Regions from separate parts of the Homo sapiens genome. Here regions 1 and 3 are each reported to be linked to region 2. Evidence: microRNA targets listed by miRTarBase, many of them from high-throughput screens and not tested one by one. Region 2 holds a microRNA gene; each other region holds the end of a gene's coding sequence.

The links. The annotated mature microRNA hsa-miR-6071 reads UUCUGCUGCCGGCCAAGGC and lies in region 2 at 1,910-1,928, shown strand. An mRNA with a match to its seed (bases 2 to 7 or 8) in the 3' UTR can be bound and repressed. Matches are read on the target gene's strand: a 7mer-m8 pairs with bases 2 to 8, a 7mer-A1 pairs with bases 2 to 7 and ends in A, and an 8mer does both.
Region 1: the mRNA of ARL5B is a reported target of hsa-miR-6071. The part of its 3' UTR that is shown has no 7-base or 8-base seed match.
Region 3: miRTarBase lists VANGL1 as a target of hsa-miR-6071. The part of its 3' UTR that is shown has no 7-base or 8-base seed match.

Annotation. Positions count from the first base shown.
Region 1 is chr10:18,675,021-18,678,020 of GRCh38, reverse strand. ARL5B (ARF like GTPase 5B) reads right to left here. Exons shown (of 6, transcript NM_178815.5): 6 at 1-2,853. The coding sequence ends at 2,805. Among named protein-coding and RNA genes, the nearest start is that of ARL5B, 17 kb to the right of the region's middle.
Region 2 is chr2:85,782,432-85,785,584 of GRCh38, reverse strand. It overlaps MIR6071 (microRNA 6071), which reads left to right and starts at 1,908; the gene lies at 1,908-1,985. The region is part of intron 2 of ATOH8 (atonal bHLH transcription factor 8); the gene reads right to left.
Region 3 is chr1:115,690,877-115,693,876 of GRCh38, reverse strand. VANGL1 (VANGL planar cell polarity protein 1) reads right to left here. Exons shown (of 8, transcript NM_138959.3): 8 at 1-2,758. The coding sequence ends at 2,498. Among named protein-coding and RNA genes, the nearest start is that of VANGL1, 50 kb to the right of the region's middle.

The DNA of each region.
Region 1 (3,000 bases), not on the chromosome of region 2:
TCAAAATTAAGAAAAATGCTGTATTTGAACTTGCAAGGATAATTGAACACTTTGGTTATAACATACTTAAAAGATTTCTGTTAAAATTTAATTTCCTTGTTTTCAAATTAAAAGGTAGAACAGTCTCCTGAAGGTAATGTAGGTGGGTCCCTTGCTTTTCACTTACTATAAACTGTGCTAACCAATACATGGAGGTGAAGGGGGATATAAAACACAAATTATTTCATCACTGAAATAATTAGCTGCTAACATGACTTCTAAAGAACAGGTATAATATAAAACTAAGAACTTATTTCAAAATATGAATAAAGGCACTAATTACAAATGTACATTTTTTAGACAGTATCTTACAGTTCACTGATTTACAATGAATGTCAGAACCAATGCTCTAGTATTAGATACTTGCTTGGGTTAAAACATTCTCTTGGAGTAAAGAATAATCAGTTTTCACGTTACTGTGACAGGAAAGATTGAGTGAAAACCTAAAAAATACTCTTAAAAAGTCTTACATGAATTTCCTAATCATGAACTTTTCCCAATCAGCACCGTCTACACTGATGCCAATTTCATCTTCAACACATGGCTAACATAAATCATTTCTAATCCAAAACTAACCAAATATTTTTTAAAGGATTTACAAAATAAATTGTATTTTAAAAATTAAATAGCAAATTTGAGTCTATACTAGTAGTTGGCAAAATACAATCAACTATTAAAAACACTTTTAATATAATGCTGATGTGGTAATATAAAAAATAACCATATAATTTGACAGAAGAAAATTGAGCCAGCCAATCTTACTAGATACAAGAAGGCAGATAGTCATTTCATAAGAACAAATACAGGAGTACTAAGTATGCTTTTTCTCAGGACAGACTTAGGGAAACTACCCTCAGTACTTACGGTAAACAACACAACCAAGCAGAAATTCAGGCAAACTGTGCTTAGGTAAATGGCATTTTCTTAATTCCCCCACATCCCACACACACCACAAACCATCCATATCGATTTATGTCTGCTTTTCGCTCATGTTCTTGATTATGGGTTATATTAAAAACTAAGTTAAACTACACTTATCCTCTACTTGATACAGAATCACTAAGAAAACGGCTTAAAACAAAGTTAAACAACTACTTTCCAAAGCCCAGAAAGCTTTCCTTTGGCCACTGTTCAGTTCAAGGGTGTGCTCCAACTAAAGATAAATCAGAAAAATGTTACCACATTCGACTAAATTAACTTGACTAAATATAATAAACCAAGCACACCTGAAAAAAGAGCAAAATTTAAATCAACTTACAAAAATATTAAAATTAAAATACCAATTTTGAACACATATTTTGATATTATGAACTTTGTATCTTTTTTATCAAAATTAAAAAGTACTGCAAAAATGAAGTATTATTCTCTAAGTATTCATTTTATCCCTTTCATTTCAGCAAAATCACACATTTGAATAAACAGGATCGAAATACGACACTTGTCTTTCCTCTTAATTTAAGGAATATATTGTTTAGATTATTGTTCATATTAGACAACTGCCTCAAAAATGTTTTAATGCCATCCAATAAATAAACTTTTGATAGATTATGACTTTTTTTAATTTTAAGTTGTTAAGAATATTAACTTTGAGTCTCCTATTAATATTCTAAAAGCTAGGATTCAATTCAGCAGTTTCCTATAACATTTTAGAACCCAAGGCATAACTACAAAGATGGCAATTGTTTCAAGTCTATTACATAATACCGTCAAATAAATTCAAGGAAAGCCATGTAGTTTTTTAAGTAACATACTGCTGGTAGTAAAAATGCTATGACAGACACGACTTCAAATTTTAAGAAACAAAATGGACTGTTCATACTTCGGCTTCAGCTACTGCCCAAAGCAGCTGTGATATATCTTGCAAAGAAAAGAGCTAAAATTTCTGTTGATAATAAAGTTGTTTGTAAACTGATGCTAAAATATATTCCAATTGTCTTATTTTTAGTGCTGGTATGATTTACTAACTTCTGATAGTTTTATATGCATTGAATAATGTGATATTCTTAAAATAACAGATTTATTCAAGAATATTTAACATCAAAGTTGGGCTTTCAAATAAATATTTTACCTTGGTTAGTTTTTGAACAAATGTTGCAGGCAGAAGAGTGGACTTGATTCCTTTAGATAAATAAACAGCCTACTTAATTTCCATGCAAATAACAACTTAAACATTATTCCATGACTCAACAGTAATGTGGGGGAAAGTTAAAAGGCAAGTACTCATGATGTGGAATCTTCCTTACATATATCCTCTAGGCAGATTTCTTTCTTTACAGTAAGTTCTGTCCGAAAGATGAATGGTTTATAGAGGGAACAAATATATTTAGTGCTGGAGAAGTCTGCAGGCAGTACCTGATGGTTTCCAAGACTACTCTATCAAACCAGTAATTCTCTGGTTGGGAGGGAGTGCTGGTCAAGAATTGAAAGCAATTGGTCATTAAGGTTATAAGAATATTTCAGAAGACATCACGCATATGACAAACATTTCTTACAAGGCAGTCACTGATTAATTAGAATAAACAGAAGAATTGTTGCTGAAAACATAGTTATACATTACATTCATCCAACTGAAGATTAGTGTGTTAAAAAAAAAAAGTTAAGAAAAAATCTTTTATGTTCCAGTTCAGCTGCACTTGATTCAAGTGTTGCTCTCAGAGGTTTGTGTTGTTATAAATTAAACATGCTGCTGCCTTAGCAGCCAAAGGTACTAGGAAAAAATGTTCATGTCACAGAATAAATAGAGCAGTCTCTTTCAAGCAAAAAAGTTATCTCACACCAATCCGGGAGGTCATCCACTCTAGACCTTGGCATAACCTAAACAAAAGATAGAAGTATTTTTAATTAAAAACCTTATACTTAAAAACTGAAAGCGTACTTATTATTTTTAGGTCTTAACCAAAGGCTGGTAGCACAATCATTATTTATATACATCAGTGTCAACATTCAAGTCACACTATAATA
Region 2 (3,153 bases):
CTAACCACAGGCCCTGGTGAGCCCCGTGGGCCGGGGCAGCCAGCCAAGACGCAAGTCTGGGGCAAGGCTGAAGTGGGGTCCAAGGAGGGCGAGGGAGCCGGGCCAGAGGGAGGGAGTGCTCTCCAGCTAATAGTGGCTCAGGAGGGAGAAAAGGAAAAGTGAGAGGCGGGAGCATCTTGATGTGGTAAATCCCAGGCTCACATTCTCCAAGCCCACTGTGCATGGCTGGCCCCAGCAGGAATCTGCTTTGTGTTACCGAGTCTGAGGAGGAGGATTAAGAAGCGGAAAGGAAACCCGTGGGGATGGCACTGGGTCTGTGGTCCACGGGGTGATTTACAGCTCGCGTCATCCCGGCGCTGGCTGCCTGGGCGGGCCCTGCCATGGGCAGAAAAGGTTTTTCTCTTGTTCAGCCTGCCCGTGGCCTGAGGAAGAAGGGGAGGCTGGGTTGGCTGGAGCCGTCCTCCTGGGCATGCTGTAAAGGCGGTCAGGGCAGCCTGGGGCCAGCCCCAAGCCGTCTGTTGGCTCTTAGTCCCCGCTGAAGCCACAGCTACCATCCAGGATTAAAGGAGACAGGGGTTTCTCTCACCAAGGCCTGACCTTCAATTCTCGACCTCACCCTTTTCCTGGCGTCTACACTGGACCACCACCACCTCGGTCCAAGAATCTCAGCACATACATCATCCATCCAAGGAAGTCTTATGACAACTGGGATGTAATGGGAAGAACACTAGGAGGCCTCAGGTGCCAGGACTTTCTCTGCAATTCAGCAGCTGTGTGACCTTGGGTAACTCACTCTCCCGCTCTGTGCCTTCATTCCGTCACTTGTACAGTGAGGGGAGGGGAGGCAGATTAGCATTGCCCAAAAGGTGTTCTGTGAACACCAGCTAGGTGAGGCATTCCATGAGTTTGGGAAATACCACATACCTTGGTCCCACTTGGAAAGTCACTGTATGTATTAGCATGTCAAAGGCTCCGAAAAGTCCTGCAGTAAACAAATTTGTGTGGCTTTAATGACCCAGTTTCCCAACTGACTTTTTTTTTTTGAAACAGGGTCTCACTCTGTTATTTAGGCTGAGTGTAGTGGTTGCAATCATGGCTCAGCATAGCCTTGACCTTCTAGGCTCAAGCGATCCTCCAGCCTCAGCCTCCCAAGGAGCTGGGACTACAGGCATGCACCACCATGCCTGGCTAATTTTTTATTTTATTTTTTATAGAGACAAGGCCTCACTATGTTGCCCAGGCTGGTCTTGAAATCCCAGATGCAAGCAATCCCCTCGCCTCAGCCTCCCAAACTTACAGGTGTGAGCCACTGCAGCCAGCCTTCCCAACTGATTTGACCGTGTAATTGCTACTGCATTGTGAGGAGCAGAAACTCACTTCAACCCTCCAGGAAAGGGAAGCTCACTTAAAGTTACAAAAGGGCATTTCACAGAGACCAGGGGGAAGGTCTCAGGATAGGTAGCAAAGGGCTTGCAAAGGTCAGCAGGGGCAGTCTGTGGCCCTGCCCTCTAGACGCCTGCTAATAACAGCCACTTGCAGGTATCCGCCTTCCTCCCTGACTACTGACTGGCCTGGTCTCCCAGCATGCCAATCCCCAAGACCCAGTGGAGGACGCCCATTGGTCTAGCCTAGGTCTGATTTATTCCCCTGGACCAATCAGCTCTGGCCGAGGGATAGAAGACAAAGATGCCAATGATACCTCTTCATAAGTGGCTGTGTGTGGGGGGCGGGGGGTGCATGTGGGGGTGCATAATTGCAAATATGGAGAATAGCAAGCATCCGCGCTGTGACCACCACACCACAGAACCCCTTTCATGGAAAGCCTGGCAACATCCTGTGTCCCATGTGAGGGGCACAGTGCGAGAGGCTTACATTCCCCGCAGCACTGGCCCTTTGTGGGTTTTTGTGTTTCTGCTGCCGGCCAAGGCTCTGGGTCCGGCTTACTCCCTAGCTTACTGTCCTCAGAACCCCCGCCACCACAGAAGATGCCCTTTATTTTATTTATTTATTTTTTTTGAGACGGAGTTTCACTCTTGTTGCCCAGGCTGGAGCGCAATGGCACGATCTCGGCTCACTGCAACCTCCGCCTCCCAGGTTCAAGTGATTCTCCTGCCTCAGCCTCCCGAGTAGCTGGGATTACAGGCGTGCGCCACCACACCCGGCTAATTTTTTGTATTTTTAGTAGAGACGGGGTTTCACCATGGCCAGGCTGGTCTTGAACTTCCAACCTCAGATGATCCACCCTCCTTGGCCTCCCAGAGTGCTGGGATTATAGGCCTGAGCCACCGTGCCCATCCGAAGATGTCCTTTAAACAACAGGTTCTGCTGCTAAGATTAACCTTGAGAATGACTAGATGAGGAGGCCTCACAGGTCCCTCTCAGCTGCTCTGACGTGCTGAATCAGAGCAAGGTGATTTGGTCAGTGTGGCAAAGTGGGAGCATTTATCACAAGCAGAAATCATCTTTTTATCTGTTCACTTGTTTATAGTCAGAATGCCAGCTCCACGAGGGCAGGGACGTGGCCTGTTTTGTTTGCTGTTGTAGCTCCAATGCCCAAAACAGTATCTAACACACAGCAGTATCTCAGTAAATGCTGGGCCAGGCGTCACGCCTGTAATCCCAGCACTTTGGGAGGCCAAAGCAGGAGGATCTGTTGAGGTCAGGAGTTCGAGACCAGTCTGGCCAACATGGCAAAACCCCATCTCTACTAAAAATACAAAAATTAGCTGGGTGTGGTGGCGCATGCTTGTAATCCCAGCTACTTGAGAGGCTGAGGTGGGAGGATCTCTTGAACCCAGGAGGCAAAGGTTGCAGTGAGCTGAGATTATGCCACTGCACTCCAACCTGGGTGTCAGAGGGAGACTCTGGAGACTCTGTCTCAAAACAACAACAACAACAACAACAAATAAATACTGGTTGACTCAATCATAGCTACTTTTGGTCACAGGCATTTTACTCACTGTGGCTTTATATATTGCAAGATGTTTCTCCTACTTCAAATGTAACATTGAGCATTTTTGTAAATGGGTCTATCTATACTTTCAGGGAAGTTGTGGTAATTGTTATGAACCCTGGAACAATTTAGCAACCTTTATGCTTTTGTTCGTTTCCAGTTTAAAAAAAAAAAATTCTAATTGTTTTCCTATCCTGATC
Region 3 (3,000 bases), not on the chromosome of region 2:
GCCTTAGGGCGAAGTTTACCCCCTTTTAAAAAGAATAGCCTACCAGTTCCAAGAATTGAAATAAAAATGCATTGTGTTCAATTGTGGGATGCAGCTTTCTGAAACCTTAAATCTTTTAAATGTCATTTACATTGTTCCCACTGCAAAAGTAACTCAAGCTATAAAGAGGTTGAAAGTGCAAAGGCTTTACAAAGATCCTGCATTTTATTTTGTTATTCTTTCAAAAAGAACTCAATACAAAGTCAATATAAAAAAATCAATACTCAATTTAAAACAGAAACAGTAATTTCTGAATGTCTAACATTCTCCTATGCAAAGACTGGGAGAAAGAGGAAGGGGGAGAGAGAAAATAAATTCTTTAATTTAAACCTTTCTTCACCCTGCTGGGAATGCACATGCCAGAGCAAATGAATCCAGCTTAACCCCTTCTGGACTGGTCATTGAAGATAGGGTTGGAAGAACAGTATTTTAGAATGGTGATGAACAGTGTCATTATTAACTATATGTACATACACTTATGGCACTTGGAACTGCACTGTATCCATGACGTAGCAACCTCTGACACAGCCCGTCTCACACTTGCCATCTCTTACCCCATTTCCCAAAATATTTCCTGAGAAAGATATTGTAAGGAACTTCCAGTTTGAAGGGATCTAACGGCAAAAACTAAGAACAAAAGCACCATGGTTCCATGGTATGTGTTTTTTATAAACAGAAACACATAGTTGAATAGTACATCTTGGCTCCACGCCACACCTATGGGTTCCCCCTTCCTTCTTCTCCAGCATGTCTTTTCAAGCTGAAGGCTAGTAATTGAAGAATGTTGTTTACTTTTTCAGGTACAGGTGTATTACAAAGATCCAAAGCCAATTTTGATTTTTACAATGACACAAAATACTGTACCACTTGTGGAGTGTATGAAGCAGTAAGGGAGTAAGGGGGTGTGCACACATACAAAGAGCATTCGACAATGTCATCCTGTACTACAGCAAGATGGCTGATTACCGAAATACTGGAAAAAGCAAGAGTGAACACTTTTAAAAGGTTTGTTGCAGATACAGGAAGGCAAATGGAGGCAAAGGCAGCCCAGTGCAAGAGGTCCGGATGGGGCTCCTGAAGGAGCTCCCCTGCAGCAGGGCTCCGCCAGGATGGCTCCTCTGCCCACAACCCAGTCAGTGTCTGCTCCCCCAGGGCCAGGGGAAAGCCCACTGAAATCAGCTGTGTTTAACAGACAGACCACAGATGAATCTTTCTGGACAAGATGGGCTCCCTACTCTCCCTTCCCCAAACTCTGTAGAGTGTCCATTTTCCTTCTCCCCACTTTATCAGCAACTAAGAGTGGGAGCAAAACCAGCCTCTTTCCTGGTCCTAAGTGGCAGAGGCGATGAGTTGCACAGTGACGGTGGTCAGAAAACACAGGGACTGGACAGCAGCAGTTGCCAGCGTGGTTGGCATGGTTTGGTCTCCTTTGGCAGGGCAGCTTGCTCTAAGCTTGGGAAGAACTTACGTCCCCAGGAAATTAAGTGGCTCCAAGTTGCACCTGCCAATCCCAGAGTCACAGTGTTAGTCTCCCCTGGTTGGTGTAGAACAGTGGGGAGGAAAACTGGGCAGTGTGGGGCTCCTGCTGCAGCCTAAAGGTGGCATTCCCACTGCCCTCTCTCCCTGTGCTTTACCTGCTGGGCACCCCACACTTCCCTATGGAAACAATGCTGGGACTGACTTGAGGCTTCACACAGAGCCGGAGGGCACACATGGAGAGCCAGGGCTGCCAGCCAGGTGGGGGCAGGATGGCATGGAGGCCAGGTGGGCAGCTGCAGGGCTGGGAAAGGGTTACCTGCTTCAAGCCAGCAGAGGGGTGGGATCAGAAACAGGGCAGGTAGGTTTTCTCTTTGGGAAAAAAACAAAATCAAATCACTTAATAGCTGTAAACGACAGTGTACATTTTTTGTTGTGATCTTTCTCTGAAGAACCTAAGGCAACAAAGAACAAAGATGAAGGCAGGTATCTCCTGAACTGCCCACGACTTTCATGGGTGATGTGATACTGGACATTAACATACACAAATACATATGTGGACGTGTCGTGACTGGTTTCCTGAAACAGAATAAAGATGTGTCCCCTGGAAGTCTACAAGTGGGCTGACCAGAAGCAACGGGGGACTTGGTACTGGACGAAAGGCAGGAATTAGTTGTAAGGCGAGGCTCCCAAGAAGCACCAGCTCCACTTTGGTTTACAGCTGTAACAGAAGCTCCAAGGAATGGCTTCTTGAGAAGTCCCATCGACAAAAGTCAGATGTCATCAGTCACTCTTTTTCAGGGTGGACAGCCCCTGCTTCCTTCCAAATAAAGTGCAGATGGTCAAAGGATACTGGTCAATCATCTGCCAGTTTCAGTCAGCAATGAAGAAGAATTTTTAAAAAAGACACCCCTCTGGCATAGATATATATCTCTCTATATATTTTTCTTTTTTTTTTAATAAAGCCACAAATATAGAACTTTTAAACGGATGTCTCAGACTGTAAGCGAAGGACAAATTTGTGAGATTTGGGGTCTATGAACTCTTCAGAGAGTATGATGAATGGAATTTTCTTCACATTGACTACGAGGCTGAAGTCCAAGCACTTAAGGACGAACACAATTCCATCCCGTAATCCATTAGTCACAGCCTCATCACTGACAAGCCTCCACTGTGTAGAGAGCCAGCGGTCCTTGTCATATTGCAGGGTGGGGCCCGCACTGAGGTACCGTTCTAGGAAGGCCTGGAAGCAGAGGAGAAAGGCCATTAGGGAAGAAACAGCCTGTTTTAAGGGCAGTACTGCCAGGCGGCTATCCACTCTCACATCTATAAAGAACTTTTTCCAAATAAACCAGCTTAGACCAGAGCCCAGCTCATCACACTCAATTCCCATCAGACCCTCACAACTGAGTCATTACTGGGGAGGGAAGACTTCTTGGACTTCCTCACTCCCCTTTACCTACTATCCACCAAGCGCAAGAATAG